4 linked regions of the Homo sapiens genome follow. The protein of the gene in region 1 purifies or fractionates together with the protein of each later gene. This does not show direct contact. Each region holds a gene or a part of one and is shown on either strand. Other genes may lie near its edges.

The links.
Region 2: the proteins of SAMD4B (region 1) and ACTA2 purify together in Homo sapiens (affinity purification with mass spectrometry; 2 studies listed by BioGRID and IntAct, with this or other methods). This does not show direct contact.
Region 3: the proteins of SAMD4B (region 1) and CREB3L2 purify together in Homo sapiens (co-immunoprecipitation; one large-scale study listed by IntAct). This does not show direct contact.
Region 4: the proteins of SAMD4B (region 1) and PDP1 purify together in Homo sapiens (affinity purification with mass spectrometry; 2 studies listed by BioGRID and IntAct, with this or other methods). This does not show direct contact.

Annotation. Positions count from the first base shown.
Region 1 is NC_000019.10:39,375,030-39,383,032, forward strand, and holds part of SAMD4B (protein Smaug homolog 2), read left to right. Parts: intron 1-620; coding exon 621-860; intron 861-1,407; coding exon 1,408-1,517; intron 1,518-1,675; coding exon 1,676-1,762; intron 1,763-2,417; exon of another isoform or gene 2,418-2,455; coding exon 2,456-2,795; intron 2,796-3,474; coding exon 3,475-3,560; intron 3,561-4,936; coding exon 4,937-5,055; intron 5,056-5,557; coding exon 5,558-5,756; intron 5,757-5,960; coding exon 5,961-6,084; intron 6,085-6,595; coding exon of another isoform or gene 6,596-6,683; intron 6,684-8,003.
Region 2 is NC_000010.11:88,942,403-88,950,405, reverse strand, and holds part of ACTA2 (actin, aortic smooth muscle), read left to right. Parts: intron 1-1,452; 5' UTR 1,453-1,475; coding exon 1,476-1,604; intron 1,605-3,019; coding exon 3,020-3,148; intron 3,149-6,498; coding exon 6,499-6,609; intron 6,610-8,003. UniProt on the Homo sapiens protein: Actins are highly conserved proteins that are involved in various types of cell motility and are ubiquitously expressed in all eukaryotic cells.
Region 3 is NC_000007.14:137,993,783-138,001,785, reverse strand, and holds part of CREB3L2 (cyclic AMP-responsive element-binding protein 3-like protein 2), read left to right. Parts: 5' UTR 1-80; coding exon 81-182; intron 183-8,003. UniProt on the Homo sapiens protein: Transcription factor involved in unfolded protein response (UPR).
Region 4 is NC_000008.11:93,921,074-93,928,899, forward strand, and holds the end of PDP1 (pyruvate dehyrogenase phosphatase catalytic subunit 1), read left to right. Parts: intron 1-153; exon of another isoform or gene 154-290; intron 291-942; coding exon of another isoform or gene 943-986; coding exon 987-2,600; 3' UTR 2,601-4,995; downstream 4,996-7,826. UniProt on the Homo sapiens protein: Mitochondrial enzyme that catalyzes the dephosphorylation and concomitant reactivation of the alpha subunit of the E1 component of the pyruvate dehydrogenase complex (PDC), thereby stimulating the conversion of pyruvate into acetyl-CoA.

The sequences.
Region 1 (8,003 bases):
GGAGCCAACCGCTGAGATCAAGAAGGTAGGAAGAAAGAGCAAGTCCAGAAGTCCTGAGGCTGGAACAACCTTGAGTGTTTCAGGAACAAAGGGGAGTTTGGGAGGAGGCAAAGGCTAGAGAGGCATGAACCAAGTGGTGGGTTGTGGGAGAGGAACAGGGGCCAGGTCCTGCATGGCCTTTTAGGCATGTGGAAGCATTTGTATTTTGTTCCCACTATGAAAGGAAGTCACAGGGATTTGAGCAGGAGTCAGGCTCGGTCAGATTTGCATTTTTAGAAGGACCTTTATGGCTGTTGTGAGGGGCGTGGACTGTAGGAGGCAAGAGTGAAGGCAGGAAACCAATGAGGAGGCTGTGGCAGTAATTCCTGCCAGGGGTGCTGGTGGCTTGAGCCAGCGGAACTGGAGAAATTCAGGAAAGTGGCTGACAGCTTGCTGATGGGTTGGGTGTTGGAGGTAAGAGAATGAGGTATATCTGGTAGGCAGTTACCCTTGGACCCCAGGTCCCTTCCTCTTGGCAGGTTATGGGGCCAAACTGCCATCCTGGCACTGACGGCAGGGGGATGGTCTCCTGTGGTTGGGTCCCCAGGTCTAATATTTTGCTTTTCTCCCACTCTGGCCAGGTCTCCCCTGCCAAATCCACCCTAGCCCACTGAAGCGCTCCATGTCACTCATCCCTACAAGCCCCCAGGTCCCTGGTGAGTGGCCGAGTCCAGAGGAGCTTGGGGCCCGGGCTGCTTTTACCACGCCCGATCACGCACCTCTCTCGCCCCAGAGCAGCGTGGCCTCCTCTGGCAGTGAGCAGACAGAGGAGCAGGGCTCCAGCCGGAACACCTTCCAGGAGGATGGCAGTGGCATGAAAGGTACATTGGGGACAGCAGCACCAGGACCCTTTTCCAGGGGCTTCTGCAGAGCTTAGAGGACAGAAAGGAGCTTGTAGCTGACACCTGCTTACCCCTCTGAGGAGGGGACATGTCTGAGGGGAGTAGATAGTCCCTGCTTTTAGGGCTCAGGACTAAGCAGAGAGACCCCACATCTACCCTAACAAGTTCTAGTCTGACTGGGAAGGAGCCCCCTGTCTTCACACACCCCAGTCTGACAAGGAAGCCAGGACACAGCTAAGTGATGGAACAGAGGTTCCAGCAAGAGTTTTGGAGCAATCAGTGAGGTCATCCTGGTATACATCCAGCCTAGCAGCTTAGAAGGGTCAGATGTCCTTCCCAGGGAAGGCTGCCTGAGGGTCTGGCTAGGCAGATGAAGAAGGAGCTGATGGAACCTTAGCTCCCCCCAACCCCCTCCCAATTTTTTGCATCTTTTGAGGCTTCCTGTGGGTTTATCCCCACAACTTTTCCTTTACCCTGGTAATCTGGGCCAAACTCCTGACCTTTCACTCTCCCTCCTTTGCCAAAGATGTGCCCTCATGGCTCAAGAGCCTCCGTTTGCACAAGTATGCAGCCCTCTTCTCACAGATGAGCTACGAGGAGATGATGACACTGACTGAGCAGCACCTGGAGTCTCAGGTGAAGCCAAGGGGACCATCAGGGAGGTGCTGGGGGCAGCGCTAGTTTGGCATCCTTGCAGCCCAAGCCTCCTCTGTCTCCTTGATCTCTATTTGGGTACCCCCAAATATCTCAGCCTCACATCTCTAGCTTCCTGTCCCCTTCTGCCCTTATCACAGAACGTCACCAAAGGTGCCCGCCACAAGATAGCCCTGAGCATCCAGAAGCTGCGTGAGAGACAGAGCGTCCTCAAGTCCCTAGAGAAGGTGAGGACCTGGTTTCTGCATCTTCAAGGCCAGCCAGCCACTTGGTGGTACCAGTAGACCAAAGGCCCTGAGTTGGCCTCCAGACTCCTCGGATGTGGCCTCCAAAATTCCCAGCCCTAGGGACCCAGACTTCAGGGACCACATGCAAGCCGGCATCAAAAGGCTCACTTGCTGGTGGCTAAGAGTCTCCCCTCCCTGTCTTTCCTGGTTTGTGGTTCCAGGATCTCTGTCTTTTGACTCTACACCTTCTCTCCCCTTTTGCTTTTCCATTTCTTACTGGTCTTTCTGGTAGAGCAGAGTGTCTCTGTCTGTACAATCTCTCTTTCCATTTGATTGTTTCTAAACTCATTTTCCTTCCACATCTGATTCCGTTTCCTTGCCACTGCCTTCTGTTTGTATTTTTCCCTGCTCAGTGTCTAGGTCTGAATCTCTGATTCTATCCTTGTTGGGTCCTTGAGACTCCAACATTAGACTGGCTTTTCGTGAGTTCTGTGGGACTTCATCTTAATGGGAAAGAGGAAATGTGTACCTATATGTTTGTGGGCTTGCAGTACCCTTACATGCCTTCTCTATGTGCTGGAACCCAGGGTCCTACCCAGCCTTCTGCAAGCCCTGTCTGACTCTCTGTGTAGATACTCTCTGTCCCTCATTGTAGGGTCTGCATGTGACCCCAGCCTGTGTCCTCCCATCCAGGATGTGCTGGAAGGCGGGAACCTACGAAACGCTCTGCAGGAGCTGCAGCAGATCATCATCACTCCCATCAAGGCCTACAGTGTCCTCCAGGCCACCGTGGCTGCCGCCACCACCACCCCTACTGCCAAGGATGGGGCCCCGGGGGAACCACCGCTGCCAGGTGCTGAGCCTCCCCTAGCCCACCCCGGCACAGACAAAGGCACCGAGGCCAAGGACCCTCCAGCTGTGGAGAACTACCCACCTCCACCAGCTCCAGCTCCCACTGATGGCAGTGAGCCTGCCCCGGCTCCCGTCGCCGACGGAGACATCCCCAGCCAGTTTACACGGGTGATGGGCAAAGGTGAGACCAGCCACAGCCTAGCAGGAAATCCTGAGGCAGAAAGCCAAGTGAACCCAAGCACCAGGGATCAAATCCAAGTTCGATGGTGGGAGCAGGGCTTTGTAAAGCCTACTGGAGACTGGAACACTACAGAGAGTAGCCAAGACAGGGTGACAAGGCCCCTTGCCCTTGGGCACGTCTGGGCTGATGGTGGATAACAGCCCTTCCCCTCAAAGCGTCTCCAGGCTGAGCAGAAATGGGGCAGTGGGTCAGAAGAAATTCCATGTAGTAAAGGGTGAGCAGTTGAGGGGAGTCCATTGATTTCTCTCAGAGGGGACCAAAGTCCAGGGGATGGGGATGGTGAAATTTATCACAGCTTCAGCCTTTCCTAAAGCAGCATGATACAGCAGACTTTACACTTGGATCCAGATCAGTCTAGATCTGGATCTGGACCTGAGGCAAGTGACTCAACTCTGAGCTTTAGGTTTCTAAGGCTAAAAATGTGTGTAGTGACAAGATTGTGTCAGGCACTATGTTGTATATCCTCATGATAACCCAAATACCATGGCTAGCACTTAATAGTTGATATTCATCCAGCCTGAGTCTCCTGTTCCTTCTTGTGCACGAGCCAGCTGGAGGCTGGAACATGGCAGAGGGCATACTAGGGGTTAACCTCCTGCCCTTTCTCATGTCCCCCCAGTGTGCACCCAACTGCTGGTGTCCCGACCAGACGAGGAGAACATCACCAGTTACCTCCAGCTCATCGAAAAGTGCCTGACTCATGAGGTAAGGCCTTCCCTAGCATACTCAAAAAGGGAAAGGCGGCCAGGCGTGGTGGTTCACGCCTGTAGTCCCAGCACTTCGGCCACCGAGGCGGGCGGATCATGAGGTCAGGAGATCGAGACCATCCTGGCTAACACAGTGAAACCCAGTCTTTACTAAAAATACAAAAAATTAGCCGGGCGTGGTGGCAGGTGCCTGCAGTCCCAGCTACGCGGGAGGCTGAGGCAGAATGGCGTGAACCCGGCAGGTGGAGCTTGTGGTGAGCCAAGATCGCGCCACTGCACTCCAGCCTGGACGACAGAGTGAGGGAAAGCCTGCCCCATCTTTCTCAAGACCATTGTGTTGTATGTGGCCCATAGGGCCTTACCTGACGTGGCACATGCCAGCCCTTCCAGTCTTGTATCTTACCAGTGTTGGCTTTAGAGGCTTCTTCTCAGAACCCTTGTACACACTCTTCCTCTCTCTCTCTCTTTTTTTTTTTTTTAATAGAGACGAGGTCTCACACTGTTGCCCTGGCTGGTTTTGAACTGACCTCAAGTGATCCTTCCACCTCAGCCTCCCAAAGTGCTGAGATTACAGGCGTGACGATTTTCTTTTTTAGAGATGGAGTATTGCTTTATTGCCTAGGCTGATCTCGAACTCCTGGCCTCAAGCGATCCCCTGCCCTGGCCTCCCAAAGTACTGGGATTATAGGCATGAGCAACCATGCCCAGCCCGTACATACTCTTTTGTCAGCAACAGTACCCTTTCCTCCTCCTCACCCCTCAGCTGTCAGTTCAAACATTTATACCTCAGGGACACCTTTACCAACCCCTCATTTTTATTTAAGTTTCTTTTGCTTCCTGTTCTTCTCCCTCAGGGAGGGATAATTTGTCACAGTTATCATCATGTATGTATCTTTCCCTCACAACCAGACTGTAAGCTCTCTGGGCATGGTCACCTCTGCATCCCAGAATTGCCTGGCACAGGCACAGAGTAGATGAGCAATGAATCTTTTTTTTGGAAACAGAGTCTCGCTCTGTTGCCCAGGCTGGAGTGCAATGGCGCAGTCTCGGCTCACTGCAACCTCCGCCTCCCAGGTTCAAGTGATTCTCCTGCCTCAGCCTCCCAAGTATCTGGGATTACAGACACACACTACCATGCCTGGATAATTTTTGTACTTTTAGTAGAGGTGGGGTTTCACCATGTTGTCCAGGCTGGTCTCCAACTCCTGACCTCAAGTGATCCACCCGCCTCAGCCTCCCAAAGTGCTGGGATTACAGCTTGAGCCACCACGCCCGGCCAGGCAATAAATATTTGAACAAATGAATGGAAGACTGGAAGGGAGGTCTGAAGGAAGCATCACCCTCTCTGCTTCACCGGTGTCCTGCCAATTCTAGGCTTTCACGGAGACGCAGAAGAAACGGCTGCTATCCTGGAAACAGCAAGTGCTGAAGCTCCTCCGGACATTCCCGCGCAAAGCCGCACTAGAGATGCAGAACTACCGGCAGCAGAAAGGGTAGGCGGGTGGCCAGGTTACAGGGACCTGCCCTCCATAGGCCTTTGCTGGTTAGCAGATCGTGCTTAGAGGGGTGATTGTGTTCTGGGCTGAGAATCTAGTTTTATTCAGTCACTGGGCGACTTTCCCAGAAGAAAATTTCCACTAGAATAGGATGCTGAGCTGAAAAACAACACATGTCCCATGAGCAGGCCCCTCATATGTACCTTGCTCCTCGCCTGTATGCAGAGGGCCTGGAAGTCCCTCCTTAGACCAGACAAATAACAGAAATGTCTCCTTTGAGAATTGAAGATTGGAGAACTGTTTTGAGTGGACAGTGAAGAAACCCTTGTACATGTCCCATCTCCTTCCAGGGGGTACCCTTGGGGCAGATGAGGACAGAATGTGTGATGGAGGTTTATGTTCTCTCCTACAACTTGGGGTTGTTGGGGAAGGTGAGGAAGGGGTGGACAGATAGGCCCCATCTATGTAAATTAACACCCTGCCTTCTGCTCTCTCATAGCTGGGCATTCGGCTCCAACTCGCTCCCCATAGCTGGCTCTGTGGGGATGGGAGTGGCCCGGCGTACCCAGCGGCAGTTCCCAATGCCTCCCCGGGCCCTCCCACCCGGCCGGATGGGCCTCCTGAGCCCCTCGGGCATTGGGGGTGTCTCCCCTCGACATGCCCTCACCAGCCCCAGCCTTGGAGGCCAGGGCCGACAGGTAAGCTGGCTGGAAGCAGGGGCCTGGCCTCCTGGGGTTGGGGTGGCAGTACCTGGGATGTCTATTTGCCTGTATACTCTGTGTCTGGACCCAGCTTAGAGGTGGCGGGGGTGGGAGTGGGAGAAGGCCTGTACCACCTCCACCACTCTTGGGTCTGGGCCTCTTCTGCACTCACTACTTTCTCTCTTCCTGGGACCTGTGTAGAACCTGTGGTTTGCCAACCCTGGAGGCAGCAACAGCATGCCCAGTCAGAGCCGCAGCTCTGTGCAGCGCACCCACTCGCTCCCGGTCCACTCGTCACCCCAGGCCATTCTCATGTTCCCTCCAGGTGAGGTGCCCCACCCTTGGGACTCTGCCTGGCCAACATCCTCAGCTGACCTTTCTTTTTTCTCCTGGGTCTCATGTCCACTGTTCTTCTAGACTGCATTGGCACCTCTCCCCATACCTCACACCACTCTGCACCCATCTCCCCCAATTGTGGGGGGTTGTTTTCCTCCTCTGCTTCAATTTTATCTCTCAGGTCTTGCCCCCACCCCTCTGAGTCATCATCTCTCACCCCTTACTCCTACCCCATCTCATGTTTCCCACCCTATGTCATAATCTTAGTGTCTGTGTTGCTCTTTGTCATCATCTCTTTCTTTACAGGATCATTGAATACTCAACTTAGAAGGGGTTGAGGGGATGGGACAGTTAAAGTGTGAGATTTCTGTGGAGGGGAGTCCTGCCCATCAGCCTACTGGGATTCTTTCAGATGCCAGGTGACCACACAGGAACCAGTGGACTTCACCTCTTAGAACAGGTGTTTGAAGTGAGAGGGCTGTTTTGACCTCTGCTTACAGACCATCCTGGAGATGGGAGAGCAGAAGTTGGGCCAAGTGCGGGCACAGTAACTCACACCTGTAATTTCAGCACTTTTGGGAAGCTGAGGCAAGTAGATCGGTTTGAGACCAGTCTGGACAACATGGCGAAACCCCATCTGTACAAAAAAATACAGAAATTATCTGGGCATGGTGGCACACACCCGTAGTCCCAGCTACTCGGGAGGGTGAGGCAGGAGGATCGCTTGAGCCCAGGAGGTCAAGGCTGTAGTGAGCAGAGATTGTGCCACTGCACTGCAGCCAGGGCGACAGTGAGACCCCATCTCAAAAAGATGTTGGGACAAGTGGGCAAAAGGAAGATTAGAGACTTGCTAACCGCAGGTCCCTGCCCTGCTCAACAAGTGAGGGGTTGACTCCTCCACACGGTGCTGGCCACTGGGGCTGCAGAGACAGATAAGGCTCGTCTGGAATGGGCTGACTCTAGAGAGAGCATGGATTTGCAGAATTCATGTCATAAACTGCCAAGTCAGTCAGGAGTCTTACTTGATGAGGTTGTGTAGACAGCCATCTGTTGAGGCCGTGGGAACCCATCCATCATGTTCATCCTAGCACAGGGCTTGACACACAGTAGGCATCTGTAAATGATGTTAAACAAGCAGGTGGATGAACCGCAGGAATGAACAAGAACCATTCTCTTTACCAGCATGCTGTGTCCCAGGCTTTGTCAGACAGCTCTCCTGCACTGATTGACTCCTCCCAACTGTATGTGTAAGGACGCTGATGTTATTCATCAGTCAGCAATCTGAGACAGGTCTTGCCCAAGTTCAAAAAAAAAATTCTTTTTTTTAAGGAGAGACAATTGGGTGATCTGATACGACATGAGCTCAGGGTTCAGAGGGAACAGTGATGAGAGATGAGGGTGGAGATGGGAGCTGGGTCGTCTAAATCCAGGTAAACAGCTCGGACTTTGTCCTGATGGCAGTGAGGAGTCAGGGAAGGGTTTAAGCAGTGTAGTGAGGGAGGTCAGGTCTGCCCAGGGAGGTGGGTGGTTTCCCAGATGCCCGAATAGGAGGCCCTTTTGAGAAGTGTGGTTTGAGGACAAGTCCCATGGTGGTTGTCCTACTTTGCCCCCACCTGCCTGGCCTGCCTGGATTGAATCCTGCCCAGAGGAGCAGGTCCAAGTGGGGACAGGAAGGGTTTTGATTTAGCTTTTGCACCAAGTACAGAGCAGGTCTTCAATCAGGGAGCCTTGGGGGCTGCCCAGTGTCCAGGGCAGATGCCCAGACTGTGCTCAAGACAGTATGCAGTCTGTGTCCAGAGTAGTCACAGCAGGCTGTGTGTGGCCTCCAGGAGCTCCTTCAGTTTCAATTCCACTCTCTGCAAGTCGGGCTTTTTCTGTATTGCCAAGCCTCTGCCATTGCCATTGTCT
Region 2 (8,003 bases), on another chromosome or scaffold:
AGCTATTTTATTTCCCTACTTCTCAGATGTTTCCTTAAAAGAACTGCCTTTTTTATATGGATTTGGAGGTGCAATCAGTTAACCCATTTAGAAGAAGAAATTTTCTCAATTTGAAATCCTAATTGAGATCTCAATGCCAGGCAGATAACTCTGGGTGTCCTTCTCTTAACGGAACATTTCGACCTAATTGTGATTAGAAAAGTGGAAGAGGTCTTGAACTGGAAGCCAAGGGGTGGCTAAAGAGTACCTGATGTCTGGCTGGAGCTCTGCCTCTAATGCCCTGTGTGCCCTTGAGCAATCACTTCCTGATTTTCTTATTTGTGAAAATGAGAGCATTGGATGAAAATGTCCTCTAATATGCCTTCAATTTCTCAAATTTGTAAGTTGATAGGCTGCTCCAGCCTTTCTAATTTTATGAAAGGATCCAAGTATAAGATCCAAGTATAAAATGGGTTATTTAAAATTTTGTTTTATTACCAAAGAAATACACATTCAATATAGAAAATTAAAAAAATATGACAGAACCATGGGAAAATAATTAAAAACACCTATAAAACCCACCACTTCATAATAACCTCAGTCAACATCTTGGTAAATATGATTAATCTTTTTGCAATGCATAAAAAATACATTTTTAATGAGATTTACAATGTTACTTTTTCTAACCTATTACTCTTACATAAGAACTACCTTTTGCTTATCCTCTTACTCTACCTTTTTAATGGCAGTAAAGTATTCTACCATATGATATATAATCCATCAGGCTCACCCTCACTTGTTGGACTGTTAGCTTAACAGTGACTTTTATTAACGGTGGATAATTGCAGCCCCTAAAATTTAAAGCACCTTCTCAGAAAATTTTATTTCAAAGCTTCTCTGAGGGTAAAGTAAAAGTCCTCATGATTCAAAAAGATTTTTCCATTAAACACTTGACCATTTTAACATTTCTAAATTTTTACATGCTGCCTGTCCCTCAAAAATCTAGCTTTTTGAAAAAATTTCAAAAAGGTATAGCATATCTAGAAAAATGTGCATTTGGGTTGATACAGACAGGAAAATCTAGATGCTTCTTTAACATAAGGTAGGCAACTTGTCTCTGCAAAGATCTGGTCTCAGACTCTGGATTTCCCATCTGTGCTCTGCAGTTTGTTTATTCATTCACTGGCTCTATCCACCTTTAAAGTGCTCACGAGAACACATGATATGCCGGTCACTACACTAAGGTTGTATCAACATAGAAGTCAGAGTTTCAGAAGTCAGAGTTTCAGCTTACTGAAAGCTTATAGTGTAACTAAAGTACTTCCAGATACATGCTATATTAGATAAGGGTCAGAGGATAGCACTAGGACACAGAGGAGGGCCCCCAAACCCAGCCTTGGAGGTGGGAGTTGTCAGGTAAGTGCCACAAATGCCCAATTACAGCTGAGGCTGCTTCCTCCCTGTTTTCTATAGAATCCTGTGAAGCAGCTCCAGCTATGTGTGAAGAAGAGGACAGCACTGCCTTGGTGTGTGACAATGGCTCTGGGCTCTGTAAGGCCGGCTTTGCTGGGGACGATGCTCCCAGGGCTGTTTTCCCATCCATTGTGGGACGTCCCAGACATCAGGTGAGGAAAATTATGATTGGAACATAACAGGACACAGATTAGGTTCCTCTGTGTTCATGTTTATCCCCAGATTGTCTATCTCTTTCTGCCCAGAAGTTATGTAACCTTGTTACAAATAGACCTCTAATGATTAAGGTCCAGGAGTAAATGCCAATTTCACATATAATGTAGACAGATTATCTGATGGGCATCTATCAGATACAAAGTCTGCCCCTTTTTCATGTCCTTTTTGTCTAAATATAGTCATTATCATCATCATCATCATCATCAAATCATTTCATCACCATCAGAAATGCTTATACATTATCCTGATGTATACCAAAGCTACTGTTTGGAAAGAAACTAAAATAAAAGTCCAGGTCACTTAACCATACAGGGCTGATGTTAGATGAAAGCAAGCATCGATACCAAATGCAATTTTACATAATATTACCTGTCAACAAAATATATTTGGACAGCCGCATGGTAATTTTACACATTATGTGTAAACAAAGTATTGGTGGCATCACATGGTAAAAACTCAGTAATTTCACCTCAGAAATTCTTCTTCACATCAGAAATGTAGTTTGTGCATTGAGGCTATCTGATTGATGTTTATGCCTCTCTGCTTGGGATATATTCATGAGAATAAATAATAGAAACCTCTCCCAATGAATGCAGTCTGTCTGAATTCATTGATCTTTATGCAGTGGAGATATTCTGCACAAGCCGCTATTTTATGGGTCCATAGTAGCCATGGCTGTTTTGTAGTTCTAAAATAGTCACTGCAGTGCAATTTAAAATCTAGTAACAATAATTTTTTAAGAACTTCACCTTAATGATTTTTTTTAAATGCAGCTGACTAATTTAGGCAAATGTCTTAACAGTTGATTGGTATGAACTTATCCATTAGAAATCAAGCCTCAAGTGGTTATTTGTAGATGCAATGCTTTTGCTTATAATAGTTAGAAAATAATGCTCATATTCTTTTGGGTAGGTGATGACTTTAAAAGTACAGTTTAAAGGATTTATAAGACACAAAATGCCATTTAACAAATATGTAAAATTGTATACATTCTTTCAACAAATAATTATTGAGTGCCACATATGTGCCATGCAATTTGCTATAGTGATGGACAAGACAGACATGATCTCTGCCCTAAAAAAGCTCATCAAGGAACATAGGAGATAAAAATACAAAGTAAAGTTGACTTTCCCCCAACATCTCCTGTTATTTGGAGGCAATTCAGGTCTTTTTCCAATCAACTGCAGAATTTTGCTTAAGAGCATAGTGGCAATGAGACTCAATATGTTTATTGTTGCTGATAATCAGAAGAGGAACTTCCCATCTCAATGACTTAACCTTTTGTGGCTTGGCTGTAATTGATTCACAAGTTTTGGGAGATGCTGACTCATAATGTGTTGAACCTTTTTAGGGGGTGATGGTGGGAATGGGACAAAAAGACAGCTACGTGGGTGACGAAGCACAGAGCAAAAGAGGAATCCTGACCCTGAAGTACCCGATAGAACATGGCATCATCACCAACTGGGACGACATGGAAAAGGTATGGGAGGTTTGCTGCAGCTTGGGCCCTCAGGATGCATAATCCCTGTGTTCTCTGATACAGAACACCACACTACTGCTGGGGAAATAACTGGCTCACATTGCTCAACTGTACTTTTACTTGTTAATGTTCATTCTGGGTTATTACCCATTGAAAAAAAAATCCTTGTAGCCATAAAAAATGATGAGTTCATGTCCTTTGTAGGGACATGGATGAAGCTGGAAACCATCATCCTCAGCAAACTGTCGCAAGGACAAAAAACCAAACACCGCATGTTCTCACTCATAGGTGGGAATTGAACAACGAGAACACATGGACACAGGAAGGGGAACATCACACACCGGGGACTGTTGTGGGGTGGGGGGAGGGGGAGGAATAGCATTAGGAGATATACCTAATGTAAATGACGAGTTAATGGGTGCAGCACACCAACATGGCACATGTATACATATGTAACAAACCTGCACGTTGTGCACATGTACCCTAAAACTTAAAGTATAATAATAATAAAATTTAAAAAAAAAAGAAAAAAAAATCCTAAAATGTTTCTTTAAAAAAAAATCCCTTGCCAGGCATGGTTGCTCACACGTGTAATCCCAACACTTTGGGAGGCCAAGGTGGGAGGATCGCTTGGCCCAGGAGTTTGAGACCAGGCTGGGTAACATAGTAAGATCCTGTCTCTACAAAAAATAAATGAAATTAGCCAGGCATGGTGGCACACACCTCAGTCCCAGCTACTTGAAAGATTGAGGTGGGAGGATCACTTGAGCCTGGGATATGGAGGCTGCAGTGGGCCAAGATCCTACTCCAGCCTAGGTGACAGAGTGAGATCCTATCTCAAAAAAAAGAAGAAAAAAATCCTGCAGGGCACAGTGACTCACACCTGTAATCTCAGCACTGGATCACTTGAGGCCAGGAGTTTGAGACCAGCCTGAGCAACATAGCAAAACCCTGTTTCTACTGAAAAAAAAAAAAAAAAAAAGGTTTAATTAACAGTGTGTGGTGGCATGCAACTGTAGTCCCAGCTACTCAGGAGGCTGAGGTGGTAGCATCATTCGAGCCCAGGAGTTCGAAGCTGCAGTGAGCTGATCATACCATCAGCTGTTGCACTCCAGCCTGGGCAACAGAGCAAGACTCTGTCTCTAAAGAAAAGGAAAAAAATGTCCTTGCCTATTAGGTTTTATTAACTAATTAAAGGATGATAGTTCTGTAGATGAGAAGAGTAGCCCTTTGCCACTGCAGGGAATTAATCATCTGTTGCTCACGTCAACTCTGTTGCCCTCCTAGGACAAGCAGTGCATGAGCAGCAGCTCAGAGAATGAAAACCCTCCTTTCATTTTCATCAGGGGCTGCATGGTTATCCCTCTCAGTGCAATATAGCTAAAGGGGCTTGAAATGCTGGGAGTAGTCTTAAACAGCCCATTCTTGAAAGGTTTTCATTAACTCACTCTAAACATCTAAATTAAAAATGTTTTTGTTTTCACTATAGTAAACAGGAGTGTAACATTGCAGGTTTGGTACATTTCTGAATGCCTCTCCACACACTGAAGCACAAGAGCCACTGAAAAAAGCTATATGATAAATATTTTAAAAATTATTTATCTGTGTTGCATTACATGAGGCCTTATCTCCCAGACACTTAATAAAAGAGCTAATGAGAAGAAGAGCTAAATTCTAAGATTTTGATGTTTGGTCATTAAACATTACAGACACCAGTGATCAGAGAAAAAAACAGAAGAAATAATGAGAAAGTGACATAAAAAATTTTAAATGCAGCAAGATATATCAGAATCACGATATCTGGCCTTTTATTTATCTATCGGCTCACTACTACTACTACGCACACAATTTATCACTTAAAAGAAAAATACATAATGTTGTTAGAATTTATCAGCAGTAATGCTCCAAGCTCTATCTTTCTACAAAAATTTCATATCAGTAGGTTTGCTTGAGGATTCTAGATTTGGTAAGATTGCAGTTTGCACAGAGAAAAAGATATCAATATCAATAGGAAAATATTCTTTTAGAATTTCTCCATGGAGCTGACAACATCTTAGAATGTATCGTCCTAGACAGAGACTATTGGAAGAAAAAACTTTCCTTATTTCTAAAATTTAAATTCAAAGTATCTTCTGGTGGGGACGAAGAGAGAGAGAGGAGAAAGGTTGCTTGCTGTGACTGGCAGGATTTTTTGAGCAGTCTGCTGCTTTCACTCCACTAAAGAAACAAAACTTTCAGAAGTTTCATTTCCCTTCTATAAACCACAAATCCAAAACAAAAGAAAGTGGAATAAGATAGTCTTTAAAGCTAATCTTGGTTTTGCTAATTTGTAAGCTTTCACCAGCAGTTCTTGTTTTGCTCTGTTTTGATTTTGAGTGAATCTCATATTCCTGGCTCTGGTGGAGAATTTTCGTGCTTTTAAAGATTAATTAATTTAGTCCTTTTTGCAATGGTTTGTTCTTTTCGGCATCTAGGAATTAAAGAAAGTGCTCAACCATAAATAAATGTAGTTATGTCCAAAGTACCTTCACATAGACACACTATACACAGGCGTGGGCCTTTTGGAAACACCTGAAGGCCAAATGTCTGACTGTGAGTGGAAGATCCAGAGTGTGCTGATAGAGGAAGCTTTTCTCATCCCTCGAGAGCAAAGAGGGTGATGGAGGCAAGAGTCAGAGAGCCCTGTTCTCTTCTTCATGTACACTGCAAAGGGCAACTTCTCTAGAAGCATTAAAAGTGTCAATTAGGTTTTCAAGTAAGCGTCATTTATTCATATATACATTCATTTGTCTTTTTATTTACAAAATTAAATCATTTTCCCATGAACATTAAAATGGGAAGAGAGAACAAAGAAAATAGAGTTGAATAATAATAACATTGATTCTGGACCAGACACTGGGCTGGACAATAACTCGAGGGTTACCTTATTTATTTACACAAAGACCCGATGAGGTACACACTAATTATTTTCATCTCCCTATTACCAATCATGAGACTGAAGCTGAGAAGGGTTAAAAACTTGCCTAAGCTCACACAACTAAGAAGTGTCCGAGCTGGGCTTTGAACCCAAGGTTTGATCAAGGGTTGTGCCCTTAACTGCCATACCATCCTGCCTCACAGATCTGGGTTAGGGATTCTGCTCAGTCACTTAGTAGATGTGAATCCTTTGGGAAGGTACTTACACACTTTGAGCTTCAGTCTCTGCATCTATAAAACCATGGACACATGCATGAGTACTTGTAGCATTTCCTTTGGTCTTGGTTTCAAGTAGCTTCTGGTCCCTTTTTGGGAAATGCAGGACCTCATGACAGCACATCATTGTGTTTCTCCTCTGTCCCCCAACTCACTAGATCTGGCACCACTCTTTCTACAATGAGCTTCGTGTTGCCCCTGAAGAGCATCCCACCCTGCTCACGGAGGCACCCCTGAACCCCAAGGCCAACCGGGAGAAAATGACTCAAGTAAGTATGCTACCCCAGCACACAACACTGTGGGGTCTGGGGAAACTTCTGTTAGAAGGAGGCTATGCAGCACAGCAGAGAGAAGGCCGGAGCTAGGAGTCCACCAACAGACTAACAGCCTTCAGTGAACTCAGGGATCCCAAAGGACAGGAACAGCTTGAAAGTACTTGCATCCTTCCTGCAGGGACCAGCCCTTTGCCTCCAAAAGCAATAGGAAATTTAAAAGATTTCACTGAGAAGGGGCCACGTTTAAGTTATAATGTCTAAGGAGAAGTCACTTCAAAATGCAGCATCACATACAATAGGAATTTGGGTTCCAGAGTCAGACATATCTAGGTTTGAAAACTGGATCTGCCACTTATCAGTTATGTGACCTTAAAGAACTCCGTTAATTTCTCAGAGCCTCAGTTTCCTTGTCTATAAGTTGGGAGTAATATTAATACTATCATTTTTCCAAGGATTGATGTGAACATTAATGAGGTGAAATGACAGATGTGTATCATGGTTCCTAATAAACATCCAAAATATAGTACTTACTATTGTCATTATTATTACTTGTTTGAAGCTAAAGACCTCACAATAGAATCCCATCCAGCCCACCAGACAGAGCTCTGAGTTTTCTAGTTTGGAAGAGCTATTAAATAACAACGTCTAGTGTCAATTCTATACTTGTTATGGTCAAGTACTGGGCTCAGCATTTTACATTCATTGTCTCTTTAAGTTCTAGCAATGTGAAGCAGGAACTATGATTATATTGACTACATAAATGAAGAAATTGAGGCTCAGATACATTAAGTAATTCTCCCAGGGTCACACAGCTAGAACTGGCAAAGCCTGGGATTGATCCACGATCTTCCAGCATTGAAGAATCATAAATGTAAATAACTGCAAGGCCTTTTCCTCAGAAGAGCTCCTGGTGCTTGCACCAACCCACTAGCACTTGTTCTCTACAGGGGAACATCTGTGGGCCTGGGAATCACTGCACGTCGCAAGAGATGTTGCTTCTGATGAATTATTGTTCCTGTCAGTGGTGTGAAGGCAAAAAAAAAAAAATGGTTGGAAATTATGGCTTGCTAGCAAATGATGTCAGACATTCTGGTTAATAGAGTAGGAAGGGTCTTACAGATGGAGAAATGAAGACCCACGGACATCTCCTGATGCACAAACTTCTCACAAGTGACCTGGAGGGGCTTGGTTCTAATCTTGTCCCTGGACTGCACCAACTGGGGCACTGACATTCTATGTGGTCCTCTATTACCATTGGGCTGGTCCTGTCTTCCAGGAACCAGGGCCTCTCCCACTGCAACCAGAATGGCCTCAGATTCTAGGGTTAGCATTGACCCAGTAACTACATAAAAAAGTGGAATAGATTAAATAGAACCTCAGACAAATCA
Region 3 (8,003 bases), on another chromosome or scaffold:
AGGAACCTTGCCGGTCCGAGGCAGCTCTGCGCGTCCCCTCCTGCGCTTAGCATCCTCGGCCCAGCGCGGCCCGCACCGCCATGGAGGTGCTGGAGAGCGGGGAGCAGGGCGTGCTGCAGTGGGACCGCAAGCTGAGCGAGCTGTCAGAGCCCGGGGACGGCGAGGCCCTCATGTACCACACGGTGAGGACCCGGCGGGCGGGGCAGGAGGGCTTTCAAAGCGGGCAAGTGTTGTCACGCGAGGAGCAGCTGGAGTCCTGGGACCCGGGAAGGCAGGGTTTGGGGCAGGGCATGGTCAGAATCAAGAGGTCCTGGGCGAGGTGTACTTTAATGTCTGAGCAGATGAAGGCGGGCAGCTGGCCCCTTTACATTTCTCATGAGAGTAATGCCACTTTGTATTCCTTTAACAATTCATGCTTTTTTCCCTGAGGCTTTTTCCATCTGTAATATCATTTGCTGTTGTTAACAGTACTGTAATGCGGGAGAGGGAGTGTGTGTTTTGAGAATAACATGCCTCCGCCTAGTTTGCTATTGATTTTTTTTTGAGGTTTTCAAAAACTGGACAAGATTAAGTAGCATTTCCTTTTCATCTGTCTCGTATTCTCTCTCCCTCTCTCCCTCCCTTCCTCTTCTTTCATATTTATATTTTAAAAAGTACACGTGTGTGTGTGTGTGTGTGTGTGTGTGTGTGTGTGTGTGTGTGTTGAAAGGGCTCCTCTACGTTAGGGAGAAAGGCGGCTTTATTTGCTTTCTTAAACTGTACGACCAAGAAGTCTCCTTCCTCCCTCTTCGGAGGAAAAACCAGCAGAGGAGTATGGAAAATCTGAGACAGTTGCATATTTAAGAAAGGCTCTGGGGAAGGTGGGACAGCTCACCAGTTGCTTGTTCAGTCTTATACTAATGCCTCAGAGATCTCTTGGGGGATTAAGCTGTCCCAGAGCACGCACATTTCTTTTAAAGTTTTTAATGTCAAGTTTTTGGTATTAAGTTTGCAAAATGAAATTTTGTTTTCAATAGCCAGCACTGATCATAGGACTTTATGCAAGATCTCTTTGTTTGATTCTTATCCATGCAGACGTTTGTAATGGGGGTGGGGCTGGGGTGAGGGGGGACACTAATGAGAAAACCACTGGAGGCTTGGCTGCTTCCCCTTCACGCTTTTTTAATGGGGTCAGTACCAAGATATTTGAAACTTTCGCAAAATGGCCTGCAGGCTCCACCTCTTTGGCCTTTGACTCTGGCTGACGTTATTTTGAGACAAGGAATGAGGGCCTCCCTGCTGATTCCCACCGAAGTATTTGTGGTGGCTGAGAGTGGCTTGTTTAAAAAAAATGCAGAGTGCAGGGCTGAGAGGGAGTGGTAGTTCATGCTGGGGCAAAAGCCAGATGTTCAGTGTGATCTTCTGGGCTTTGCTTGCTGAGCTTGTCATGGGGACACTATGTGGGCAGCACGGAGGTTGGGGTACCAGATGTGCTTCCTGTCCTCAGTAAAGAACTTGGAGTATGTTGTTCCTCAAATATCTTTTGATGAATGGGTGCTCCAGGAGTTTCTACTGACAGGCTACATTTTATCCATATGCAGAGGGGCAGCCCTTCTCTTTTGTTCTTGAAGTATTCTTTCGCTGTGACAGTGTCTCATCCAGCAGCTGCAATGCCACAGCTAGGGGGTTGTCTTTCAGCTGGTGGGATGAATTACGCACAGGCATCTACCTTGCTGTTCTTTGGCCCTGTAGCTTGCATTTGTGAGTTCACAGGGAAAGGTGCGAGATGCTACCCGTGACTGTGGCATTCACTCTGGGAAGAACTGCTTGGACTGGCTCTAACTAACACCTTATGCACACTTTCAGGGAGTAGAGGCCTTACATTTGCTTTGATATTAACAGCCCAGTTTTTCTGTCATTGTGATAAAGCAGGAATGTGTGATTATTTTTCTTTTATTTCTATTTTTAAAAAATGCTTATTATGTCCTCCACTTAGGTACATGTCTGTTGTGAACAGCTCATTCCTGTAAAATGCTGCTCATCATTGCTGCAAGTCAGTGCAACAAACTGTGCATATGAATTACTGTTGAAAGAGGTATTGGTTTAGCAGCACAAATGATTGGGTTATATTTCTCTCAAACTAAGGGACGTTTGGGAGAGGTGGGGAGATAATTTTCCCATCTGTTTCCTGAACTCTGTTAGATATCCAGGGGCAGAGCTGTTTGTTACTCTAGCTGAATCTTTATGTAGAAAAAGGATGGCCTGATTATTCATTCAGTCAGAGAGATATTTGTTCTTTCGATTAATATTTGTGGAATATATAAAGCACTTGGAAACATGAGTGAACAGAAGCAGACAAAATCCCTGACTTCTAGAAGCTTATATTCGTGTGTGTGTGTGTGTGTGTGTGTGTGTGTGTGTGTGTGTAGGGGAACATAAACAATAAACATTATAAAGAAGTGATTATGTTGGATGAAATAAGTGTTATGGAAAACGTATAAGTAGAACAAGGTGAGGGGGATAGAGAATACAAGGTGGAAGAAGAGCAAACTATGGGATTGAACTGAGTGATCAGAGCAAGCTTCCCATAGAAAATGGATCTGAACAAAAATTGGAAGGAGGTAAGAGTGTTAGCTCAGCAGGATGAAGAACTAGAGCAAAGGCCTAAGGTAGGTGTGCATTTTCATGAGACTGTGTTAATATCATGTATTTCAGATTACTCATTTTGGTGAGTTATTTGTCTTATAAACTCTGGGTGCTTCTGAGACACCAGTGCCTGTTTTTGGAATGATTTCATAAAACTTTCCAAGTTGAAGAGAGCCTGAGGGGAGGGTGAGGTTCAAATACGAGTTGTGAGGGTGGTAAGAGATGATGACAGCTACCATCTATTGAGTGTTTATCATCCGAAAGGCAGGGCTGACCACATGGCCTGCCACCCATGCAGTGCCACGGGGTCCACACTTGGTTTGATGCTGTGCTGTCACCATCTTGAAAATCTTAATTCTTTTTGAACTGGGGACCTTACATTTTCATTTTGCACTGGGTTTCACAAATTACGTAGCTGGTCCTGCTGAAAGACATTGTGTCTAGTGCTTTACAAATATTATGCCATTTAACCCTTGTAATGACCCAGTGAAATGAGCCATTTTTATTACTTTTATTTTACATATAAGAAAAATGAGGCTTCGTGAGTTTAAGCCACTTGGCTCAGTTCCCACAGCTATTTAGTGATAGAACCAGGATTCAAACCCATGTTTGCCTGCCTGCAAGTACTTGCCTATCAGGCTGTCTGAGTGAAGAATCCTGACTTAAAGAGAAGGAACTGAATAAGAGGTTGGGAGAGAGTGATTGGAATATAGGAACTGCTGAGCCTGAAAGCAGCTAATGTTTAAATGAGGCTGACAGTGGCAGCCACCAAACCTTCCTAGTGAGATCACTTTTGTTGCTCTTACTAGGGATTTAGTTACTACATGCATGATTGCTAATGCTCTGTTTTAGCAAACCTGTCACATACTTGATTTAAACAATTTAGAATGTTCAAGTTACCCAAGGCTGAGATTATGATGTTTCTCAGGAGCCTTCTGTTAACCGTTAGGAGCAATGTTTTTTTTCATTTGGTTAGTTATGAAGACATCTTGGTCTACAAGGACAAAGGCAGACAGGTTCAGAGTCTACAAAATAATGAAGCATATGGATAGGGCAAAGATGGACTGATCATTAGATCCTGAATTGCTAAAGCTCTGGGCTTCCTCTTGAAGCTTAAAAAATTGTTTCCATACAGATGATGAAATGTTATTTTAATTCAGTGAGTACTGATTTTAGGAAAGCTGTTGCTTCAAGATGGAATACAGGCTAAAATTGGTTCAGAAAAGATGGCAAATCTAGAAATCAGGAGAATATCTCTTGGGGTTCGGTACCACCGTGAGAAGAAACCTTGCCTCTTTCCCCAGACCTGCCTGTATGTTGGACATTTCTGCCATTTGTATTGTATTCCTATAAAATTCTCTGAAAATTACTTTCTGGGAATTGTCTGTGCTTTTGTAATTTCTATTTTATTTTATTTTATTTTATTTTATTTTTGAGATGGGTCTTGTTCTGACACCCAGACTAGAGTGCAGTTGCTCAATCATGGCTCACTGCAGGCTTAACCTTCCAGGCTCAAGTGATCCTCCCACCTCAGCCTCCAGAGTAGCTGGGAGTATCAGTGTGTGCCACCATGCCTGGCTAATTTTTTTCTTCTTTTTTTTTGGTAGAAACGGGATCTCAGTATGTTGCCCAGGCTGGTCTCCAACTCCTGGGTTTAAGGGACCCTCTTGCCTTGGCCTCCCAAAGTGCTGGGATTACAGGTGTGAGCCACTGTGCTCAGCCCCCTTTTGCAATTTAAAGAGCAAAATAATCTATAAATTTTAAAATGTATTTTATATATGTATAAACTGTATCTGGAAGGATGCTCAAGAAGTGGATAATTTTTGGGAAAGCAGCTTGGGGAAGTGGAAGTCAAGAGATGAAGGGAAGCATGTCTACACACTATACCTGTTGGTACTATTCAGATTTTTACCTCGTCACTATGTCTAGAAAATGGAAGAAATACAACTTGTAGGCACCATGTAAAACTGGACTAGAGGTAATTTTCAACCAAGTGTTCTTGGGGGAAAAAGGGAGCTTCAGTACTATATAGAAACTCAACACCACTCAAGGTCAGTGGAGGCGTTGGATGAAGAACAGGGGAAGTGGGAAGGCCCCATGGAAAGAGGCTTTAGGGGGAGAGGTTGGCAGGTGGTTTGCCCATGATAAACATCAAGATCTTGATAATGTTCTCCTTTCTTCTATCTCAGTTTAGCCATCTGGAAAATAAAACAATTTTTGCAATTTTCGCCATGATTATATCCTTTTAAAAAAGTGTATCATAAAAACTAAGTCTTTGTGAAAGTAACAACAGAAGTTCTGCTTGTTTAAAATGCAGAATTCCTATAAAGCCAAGTTATTTGTAAAATCATTTGGTGGTTATGCTAATACAGTTTTATATCTGGTTGGTTCTTCAAGTGAAACCACTGGTCCCAGACAGTGGTAGGTAGGGAGTTGGGGGAATATTCGACCTGCCTGGTGTCCAGATGGAAAGGCCATCTGGCTTCCATGTCTTACTGAGTGCTGAAAAGGAGTTGGCTGATCTCACAGACTGTGTGGTTTCCTGTTCCTCCCGCCTGGCCCGGAGAGTGATATGATTTCAATGCGATATTGAAGCTTTTGGTTTGATGTTCCACTTTGGAGTTAACTCCTAGGGTTGGCCCCAGGCCAGGTTCTGAAGGGGCACCCGGGTCCTCATTGGCTGAGAATGTTATTACTTATGGTCACATGACCTCCACAAGCTGAATAAATGTAGTGAGTTCTAACGGGAGACAGAATTGGGAAGTAAGTATAATTTTTCCAGACCCTTGTGGCACCTTTCAACATTCTCGCCCCTTTTGTGTTCCCCTCCTTTCTTAGACATCAAGTGTTCACTGTAATGTTCTCTTTCCAATTTCATCCCTTCAAATTTTGCTGTCAGGAAAGATTTGATAAGCTTTCACTAGAAATTTTAGTGTTAGTAAGATTTAACATGTTAACCCTAAATGGGCATTTATATTTAACAATAATTACTTCAGGTCAAAAGGGTGAATCTCCACTTGGAGAACCTAGGGCGATAGCCAGGTAGTAGTGGGCGAATATTTGGGGAATGGGAGAGGAACCCTCACTGCCCTCCATTATTTCATAATGTGGCTCTTATTCATAAGGCAGCCTTGTTTATGTGTTGCTAATTTGTCTATGATCTAGAGGATTTCCCTTGGCTTAGCAAAAAATCTTTGACGGATTATTTTACTGTCTCTGAAATTGTTCTCATGATAGTAACATTGGTTGGGAGGTGGTAGACATAGGCACAGTCCTGAAAGATGAGAGGGCAGTACAGAGTTTTATATTTGCCCTCCTTCTCGAATGATCCCTGAGTTACAGTGTTCATGGGAAACAGGGGTCTCTGATGTGACATTGCTTTTGCAGGAGTTATAAGATATAGCATCTAGATTAATAATTGAATTAATTACAGTGCTTGCAGCTAGAAGTAACTGAAAATGGATTCAGATCGGCTCATACAGTAAGTAAATTATCTCATGTTGCAAGAGGTTGTGAAATAGAGCCCCTGGCCGGGCGCGGTGGCTGACGCCTGTAATCCCAGCACTTTGGGGGGCCAAGGCAGGTGGATCACAAGGTCAGGAGTTCAAGAGCAGCCTGGCCGAGATGGTGAAACCCTGTCTCTACTAAAAATACAAAAATTAGCTGGGCGTGGTGGCGGGCGCCTGTAATCCCAGCTACTCGGGAGGCTGAGGCAGGAGAATCCCTTGAACCTGGGGGGTGGAGGTTGCAGTGAGCCAAGATCATGCCACTGCACTCCAGCCTTGGTGACAGAGTGAGATTCTGTCTCAAAAAAAAAAAAAAAAAAAGAAAGAAAAGAAAAAAAAAGAAATAGAGCTCCTTGTTGGCTGATTCAGCAGTTCCTCAATGGACCTTGGTTCTGCCCATGTGCAGCTTTCATCCTCAGGTTGGATGTGTGATGGACATAGGAGTTACAGGGGTTACATTCAAAATGACAACATCCAGAGGAAGAAGAGAAGTTGTCTCTTTCTTGTGTCCCTTTTTTAGAATGGAAGAAACTTTTCTTACTAGCCCACTAGCTGATTTTTCTTAAAGCTTTATTGGTAAGGATTCGGTCATATGACCATTCTTAAGCCAATGGCTGGAAAGGAGAATGGGATTTATATTATCAGCTTAGATTAATCATATGGGGATGGAGACTCAACCAGCATGACCATTGGGATCATTAGTAAAATAGTCTGAGTTAACAATTCTTTCCTTAGTCAAAAGGTATGTTTCTTTTCTCATGAACATGGGCTAGCAACTAGAAAATTTAAAATTCACAGTAATTTGCCCTGGGCGCAAAACAGTAAACCCAAGTACTGTGCCACTCGCAGAGTTCTTTTGTTTTTTGTTTTTAAATAGAGACAGGGTCTCCTTATGTTGCCTAGGCTGGTCTTGAACCCCTGGGCTCAAGGGATCCTCTGCCTCGGCCTCCCACAGTGCTAGGATTACAGGCATGAGCTATCACGTCCGGCCCAGCAAAGTTCTAAGAATATTATTTAGCTGTGCTACCAATGCCCAGTGAAAGAAGACTATAGATGTAGAAATAGCCTCTTGAAAGTGCAGGGAAAGGCTAGGGAGGGGTGGGAGCCAGGAGGAGATTATGGCTATGTCTTGACTCACTAACTAGGAGATGTAGAATTAACTGTATTATCTGGACTCTTGGCGTCAGAGTAGAATACCAGGGCTGGAGGTAGCTAGCTGAGCCTGTAATCATGCTTACCATGCAGGACAAGAATGATTTGTTCTGTTTGGGATCGACAGCAGGTGGCAAGCTAAATGCCATTTTTCAAAGAAGCAATTTTTCCAGTTGCATATGGCTGTTCAAATATTGATGAGGGCACATGTGCCTGTCTGCAGCTAAAACTGCCGGCCTCAGCCTGACATGGCTCTACGCTGTCTGGTGACTCTCTTGGGGTAAATAGCCTTAAGCCTTAGCTGGGCATTTGGTAGGATTGAGGCCTATGGTTGCAGGGCATCTGAATTGTCCAAATGAGTGATCTTATGAGTGAGGGAGTGCTGCCCTTGTTTTCTGCCCCTGTGGAATCAGGATGGAAAGGAAATAATGAGACCCACTGTCTCTGGATCAACCTTGAGCCTATTTCTCTTTTTCCCTGCTCAGTGGATGCACCCTGGCCTTTCTAAATGAAGTGCTAAGGGATCTTGATTTTTCCTTGAATCAAATTGTATAGGTTATTCATGAGGCACATGGGAGAAGATGGGCCATTTTATCTATGGGGAATGTAAGACATAGAGCAGTAGAGATTTGCTCAGCACAAGTTCCTTGAGGACAGGAGACATGACTGTCTCTTCTATACCCTCATGGTCCTTAGTCAAGTGCAGGATGCCCAGAGAAT
Region 4 (7,826 bases), on another chromosome or scaffold:
TTTTTTTTTTTTTAATCATGAAGGGCACGGTAGAATTCAACAGTGAATAAATGAAACCTGAATTTTATTTAAAAACCTCACTTCCATAAGCATAAAGGCATGAATCCTAGAAGAGCCTTAGATAGCATCTGCTCTGTTGATGTTCCTTTACAGGTTAGAAGAGTGAGACTCAAAGATGTGAGCTGACTTTTCCAAGATTATTTGGGAGTTGGTGGCAGACCTATGCCCGTTAGCCTGGCAAATTGCCACAGTGGACTAGAGAAGCAAGTTTTGCAAGACCATCTACTGGGGTACAGGAGAGAAATACTGGAATTTCTTTTTTTATTTAATTATGTAGAAATTTTTCTATATATGTTACAATGCATATTACTGTAGTCATATATGTATATGATGTACACGTAATTCATAAATACACATATGTTTGGCTGCCTCTTAACATTTTTGGTCATAGCCATGTGTAATCATGCCAAAAATTGACCACAGGTCTATGTAAAGGGTCTTCATAAATGGAAGAAGTCCCTGTGTAAAATGGGAGATTTCAAGGCATTTTTTAAGAATAGGGAGGGAGAAGGATGATTGGTCAGGTAGACGGCTACTGCATAATGTTATATAACCTTCATCTCCTCAGCTTTCCCCAGCCAAATCTGTTGTACATTCTGCACAGTTTGTACTGCACAAAGGACGACAAAGAAAAGAGAAAATTGAAGTTTGAGTATAGGAGCCAGGAGTTCAGTCGTGGTTCCACGAATGATTGGGAGTTGTGCCTGCCAGAATATACCCTGTAGAAATAGTACATGATGTGTGTATAAAATGTAGTACCTTCTAGCAAAGGCTTAACATGTAGATTGACTTGCTTAATATTTGTTATAAAGGCAAAGCTAGATTAAGTATCCTGAAATGTAACTCTTTCCTTTGTGTACATCTGTCTAATTTGCTGTCTAGGAATCCCAGTCAGAAGTTCCAGCCTGCCACTGTTCTCTGATGCCATGCCAGCACCAACTCAACTGTTTTTTCCTCTCATCCGTAACTGTGAACTGAGCAGGATCTATGGCACTGCATGTTACTGCCACCACAAACATCTCTGTTGTTCCTCATCGTACATTCCTCAGAGTCGACTGAGATACACACCTCATCCAGCATATGCTACCTTTTGCAGGCCAAAGGAGAACTGGTGGCAGTACACCCAAGGAAGGAGATATGCTTCCACACCACAGAAATTTTACCTCACACCTCCACAAGTCAATAGCATCCTTAAAGCTAATGAATACAGTTTCAAAGTGCCAGAATTTGACGGCAAAAATGTCAGTTCTATCCTTGGATTTGACAGCAATCAGCTGCCTGCAAATGCACCCATTGAGGACCGGAGAAGTGCAGCAACCTGCTTGCAGACCAGAGGGATGCTTTTGGGGGTTTTTGATGGCCATGCAGGTTGTGCTTGTTCCCAGGCAGTCAGTGAAAGACTCTTTTATTATATTGCTGTCTCTTTGTTACCCCATGAGACTTTGCTAGAGATTGAAAATGCAGTGGAGAGCGGCCGGGCACTGCTACCCATTCTCCAGTGGCACAAGCACCCCAATGATTACTTTAGTAAGGAGGCATCCAAATTGTACTTTAACAGCTTGAGGACTTACTGGCAAGAGCTTATAGACCTCAACACTGGTGAGTCGACTGATATTGATGTTAAGGAGGCTCTAATTAATGCCTTCAAGAGGCTTGATAATGACATCTCCTTGGAGGCGCAAGTTGGTGATCCTAATTCTTTTCTCAACTACCTGGTGCTTCGAGTGGCATTTTCTGGAGCCACTGCTTGTGTGGCCCATGTGGATGGTGTTGACCTTCATGTGGCCAATACTGGCGATAGCAGAGCCATGCTGGGTGTGCAGGAAGAGGACGGCTCATGGTCAGCAGTCACGCTGTCTAATGACCACAATGCTCAAAATGAAAGAGAACTAGAACGGCTGAAATTGGAACATCCAAAGAGTGAGGCCAAGAGTGTCGTGAAACAGGATCGGCTGCTTGGCTTGCTGATGCCATTTAGGGCATTTGGAGATGTAAAGTTCAAATGGAGCATTGACCTTCAAAAGAGAGTGATAGAATCTGGCCCAGACCAGTTGAATGACAATGAATATACCAAGTTTATTCCTCCTAATTATCACACACCTCCTTATCTCACTGCTGAGCCAGAGGTAACTTACCACCGATTAAGGCCACAGGATAAGTTTCTGGTGTTGGCTACTGATGGGTTGTGGGAGACTATGCATAGGCAGGATGTGGTTAGGATTGTGGGTGAGTACCTAACTGGCATGCATCACCAACAGCCAATAGCTGTTGGTGGCTACAAGGTGACTCTGGGACAGATGCATGGCCTTTTAACAGAAAGGAGAACCAAAATGTCCTCGGTATTTGAGGATCAGAACGCAGCAACCCATCTCATTCGCCACGCTGTGGGCAACAACGAGTTTGGGACTGTTGATCATGAGCGCCTCTCTAAAATGCTTAGTCTTCCTGAAGAGCTTGCTCGAATGTACAGAGATGACATTACAATCATTGTAGTTCAGTTCAATTCTCATGTTGTAGGGGCGTATCAAAACCAAGAATAGTGAGTGGCTCTTTCACTGGCAATTCTCAAATGATATACATTTAAAGGGCAGATTTTTTAAAAAGATACTACTATAATAAACATTTCCAGTTGGTCATTCTAAGCATTTACCCTTTTGATACTCTAGCTAGTCAGGTACTCCAAATTGACTTTGCAGCAGGGTGGCAGGGTCAGGAGAGTCTGGTCCTGCCTAGCTCAGATTTCATGGCACCTGCACTTGAAGCAAGTCACTTCTTTATCACAGGTGTCTTGAAACATTAGCTTCTTTTACCAACCTGAGAAAATTAGGATGACCTGGCAAATAAGATCTTGAATAGGCCAAAAGCAAGTATCTTGCTGTGTGTAGTCTCTTGGTTAAAGTGAAGAAACAGTACTGTTCACACCTTTCTTCACTGAGATTCCAGTGTACATGAGAACATATATTTATTGCATGATTTTCTAGATACACAGTCTATGCATTATTCATATACATTTATTTTAGCCTAAAGTGGTTTTCAAATCCAGTTCTTCAAGCCATAAATGACCAAGATCCAAGCAATCTGAATTTGTTTTTGTGATTATTTGACTGGAATGCTTCTTAAGTGGAATAACTATACTCCGTTATCCACCCGATTTCCTAATGTAATTGAAAGATTTTCTATTTTGCCACACACTTGGAGACAATAAGGGTTTTTAGTTTTATCTACTCTTCTATTGAAGTTAAAGAAAGAAAAAAAGATTTTTTTATTTGTATTAATGAAAAGCTTTAGTTTAAAATAAGGAGATCCAGAATAAAAAGAAGAGACTGATCTCTTCAATTATTGTCATCTGTAGCCACCAGCACATCACTCTTATGTAATCCCCAAAGGCTTGGCATGCCGTAAGTGTGTGGTGGGTAGACTGCTGCCGGGGAATCGTACTTCTTATTTAGTAATGATAAGACTTTTCATTATTTTTGGAATTTTAAAGATGACATAAATAAGTTTAAATATCAATTTGGGGAGTAAGGTTTAATATTGCCATCGGGTATTGAGACAGGAGGAAGTTTCTGTTTTTCTCCATTTAGACATAGGTCAATTAAAATATTTGGGTTTAAAATGACTAAATGCTTTAAACATATTGTAGCTTAAGATATATGTGTTAAGATATATACATGAGAAACTTTAAAAGGTAACTACTGTGCATGCCTGATGCTTAATAGAATACTTAGTGGCATCAAATGTTTGCAGCAGTCTCCATAATTATATTCAGTCCCTTCTAATACTGTATCAATGTAAATGAAATAAATATATTCAAATTGGCTTTTTGATATGCATCAAGTGGCATTTTGTTCCTGTGTTTAATAGTGATCTGTATACAGCTGTGCACATATTGTCATCACTTATTCTAGCATCACTGTTAAGGCTGTGATTATGTTTGATATTCACCTGGATTTTAATACAAGCCAATATCAGCTTCCCATTGTGTAATAACTTGGGTGTTTAGGAGTCTTTTCACATTTTTTGGGGATATGAACTAGATGTTCAAGAACTCCTTCTGGACTGTGGATACTGAATCAGTGTACTATTGGCTGCAGAATTTGTTTCAATTGAAAATAGACTCAGGAAGATTGCTGCTCAGAATATCATATAATGTTTATTTTTTGAGGTGTTTTTGTTTTTATTTGTGTGTTTTTTTTTTTTTAAGTCAGCTTGGAACTTTTTTCCTGGGTAGTATTTGGGAGAGGGAAAGGCTGTACTATATATTTATTTCTAAATGTTTTGACTGGGCATTTTTCTTTTAATGAAATATGTGGACTGCTCTAGCAAACCCTATTTTCAGCTACTATTTGAATATTCTTGAACACCACCACTGAAGAGTTTCATATACACCAAATAATGTCTCATCTCTATAGTACAGGGAATATAAAATTGGTTTCCTGTGGTCATGATCAAGATAGTAGTATTATTACACAAGAAACTTGGTCTGCAGTCTGGAAGCTTGTCTGCTCTATAGAAATGAAAATGCAGCATGAAGTTGACATTGTGGAAATGAAAGTAATTGGGTATTAGAAATCTGAAAGTACTGTCATCTAAAAGCAATTGTGATTTTATTGTAATTGGTTGTCACTGTTGTACGGTGTCTAGAATTAAAGAATACATGTAAACTTTCATGGTATTTAGCCTTTCTTAAATTTTTTTAAAATTTAAACTTTCTAACCTATGTATTCAACTTCTGTATTTATATTTAATCAGTGGTTCATGTTATATAATACACCCTTAACTAGTTAAATGGAATGTTGGTATGGTACAGAGTACCATATTGCTAAGAAAACTGTCTTATAAAAGATGTATATGTGTGAAGACATGAAAGTTTAATGTACAGAATGGTTGGAGAAATGCCTATGGTGAATTAAAGCTTCATATCTGCTTTCTGAATGTCCTGTGTTGGTTTTTAATAACAAGATTGATTAGATGCTTCCTATGTGTGGTAGATTATATTTAATTTTAGGACCCAGTAGATACATAGTACTTCAAATTTGTAAAAATTGAGGTAAAATTTTTTTTCTTTTTTTTTTGAGATGGAGTCTCGCTCTGTCACCCAGGCTGGAGTGCAGTGGTGCGATCTCATCTTACTGCAGCCTCTGCCTCCTGGGTTCAAGCAGTTCTTCTGCCTCAGCCTCCCAAGTAGCTGGGACTACAGGTGCGGGCCACCACACCTGGCTAATTTTTGTATTTTTAGTAGAGATGGGGTTTCACCATGTTGGCCAGGCTGGTCTTCAACTCCTGACCTTGTGATCCACCCGCCTCGGCCTCCCAAAGTGTTTGGATTACAGGTGTGAGCCACCATGCCTGGCCAAAATTGAGGTATAATTTAAACAAAATGCACAGATTTAAAATTTGCGATGTAACATTTGGTAACACCCCAACAAAGATATAAAACTTTTTCTTCAGAAAATTCCCTATGCCCCTTTCCATTAATCCCTCCCCTCATAAGTATCATTCCACTTCTCTCACCATAATTTTGCTTCTAGAAATTTATATAAATCATACATGTACTTTTTTTTTTTTTCAGACAGTCTTGCTCTGTCGCCCTGGCTGGAGTGCATGATCTCGGCTCACTGCAGCCTCCGCATCCTGGGTTTGAGCAATCATCCTGCCTCAGCCTCCCAAGTAGATGGGACTACAAGCATGTGCCACCACACATGGCTAACTTTTGTATTTTTGGTGGAGACGGGATTTCACCATGTTAGCCAGACTGGTCTCAAACTCCTGACCTCAAGTGATCTGCCCACATCAGCCTCCCAAAGTACTGGGATCACAGGCGTAAGCCACTGCACCTGGCCCACATATGTACTTTTTATGTTTTACTTTTGCTCAATTTTTGGAGATTCACTTATGTTGTTGATTGTATTCATAGTCTGTTCCTTATTACTGGGTAGCATTCCAGTGTTTGAATGTATCACAATTTATCCATTCTCTATTGATGGATGTTGTCAGTCTCCCCCTGCCCCCCTTTAAAGATAATTTTTAGATTAATAATTCTCAGAAATGCTGTTTGGTTAAGGTGTAGCTTTAACTTTGCAAATAATGATTACAGGTAAGTTTTCTGTTAAAGCTTTGATGATAGGACCCTTAATGCCCTTAAAACAAATGGTGGGAATTTTTCATGGTGAAAAGTTCAGTGGGATTAAGGCGTGGCCCTTTGCTATTGGCCTCTTTGTTCCTCTCCCACTGAGAAGTTTGTTGAGTTCATTAAGCTTGGTAGATGATTGTGTTAATGACAAATTGAGAAAATGGCAAATTATACCTTGGTGGGTTTTTTGTCTTTTTTAAGAGAGTCTCACTCTGTTACCTAGACTGGCATGTAGTGGTGTGATCACAGCTTATTGCAACCTCAACCTCCTAAGCTCATATAGCTTGGTTTTTGATGGTTTGGGTTTATCACTGCATTGGCCATAGCTATGACTAGGGATGAGGAAGGAAGAGGATGAAGTGCTGACTGTTGGGGATGGGGTGACTGACTTGAGTATTTCTGCTTTCATTAAACAAAGTTAACACTGCTTAGAATGAGCTTCCATGTTCACTAGTCAAACAAATACCTGAATGTGGGTTGTTCATTTGTCCTTGGGTATAGCAAGAGGATCTAGGTAACTGTTATTCTCTCTATAGGTTGACATATTTAATTCTGACCTTTTTCATAAATACTAGAGCAATAGCTATTCATTGTAGAGTTTTTCAGACCTTCAAAAGTTACATTCTGTTAAAATTGATGCAGTGGTGCTTTTACTACCTAAACAAGCTGAATAAATGAAGACGTTTTATGGCATCAGAATTGGCTTGTTACAGTATGAAAATCATTTCCTGTTTTCCTTTCAGAATGTACTTTAAAAGGCAAGCTTAAACCTATTAAATCCTGTCTGTCCAGTTCTTACGACAATGCAGTTTATAACCCTGGATTGAATCATAATGCATAGCATTATTTTCTAAATAGCTCTCAAATTACAAGTCTTCAAAACAAATATATTAGGAATGATGAAATTTGTATACTCCATATGCCATTAAAAATGGTTATCCATGGCCAGGCATGGTGGCTCACACCTGTAATCCCAGCACTTTGGGAGGCCAAGGCGGGTGGATCACAAGGTCAGGAGATCGAGACCATCCTGGCTAACACGGTGAAACCCCATCTCTACTAAAAATACAAAAAATTAGCCGGGCGTTGTGGTGGGCGCCTGTAGTCCCAGCTACTCGGGAGGCTGAGGCAGGAGAATGGCGTGAACCTGGGAGGCGGAGCTTGCAGTGAGCCAAGATTGCACCACTAAACTCCAGCCTGGGCGACAGACAGAGCAACACTCCATCTCAAAAAAAAAAAAAAAAAAAAAAAGGGTTATCCAATGCATGTATATTAAGGTCCACACAATTTAGGCTCAGTTATTTAGCCAATATTTAGGTTCATAAATGGTCCCCATCCAACCCTTGACTCCCAGAAGCTCCCTATGCACAGAATGAGAGAAGCGTTCCTTTGAGGGTCCACCAGGAACTGTAGCTGCTATTTGTGAGTATCAGGTACCCAGCTCCAAAAGGACTGGATATTTCATCTTAGTTTACCTTACTACCCCTACCCAAAGGCGGGTGGAGGAGACAGTTTTCTATCCAGGATCCTGCCCAGACTCATGAGTTCTCTGCTTTTCTTTCTTTTCTTTTCTTTTTTTTTTCTTTTTGAGAGAGAGCTTCACTCTTCTTGCCTAGGCTGGAGTGCAGTGGTA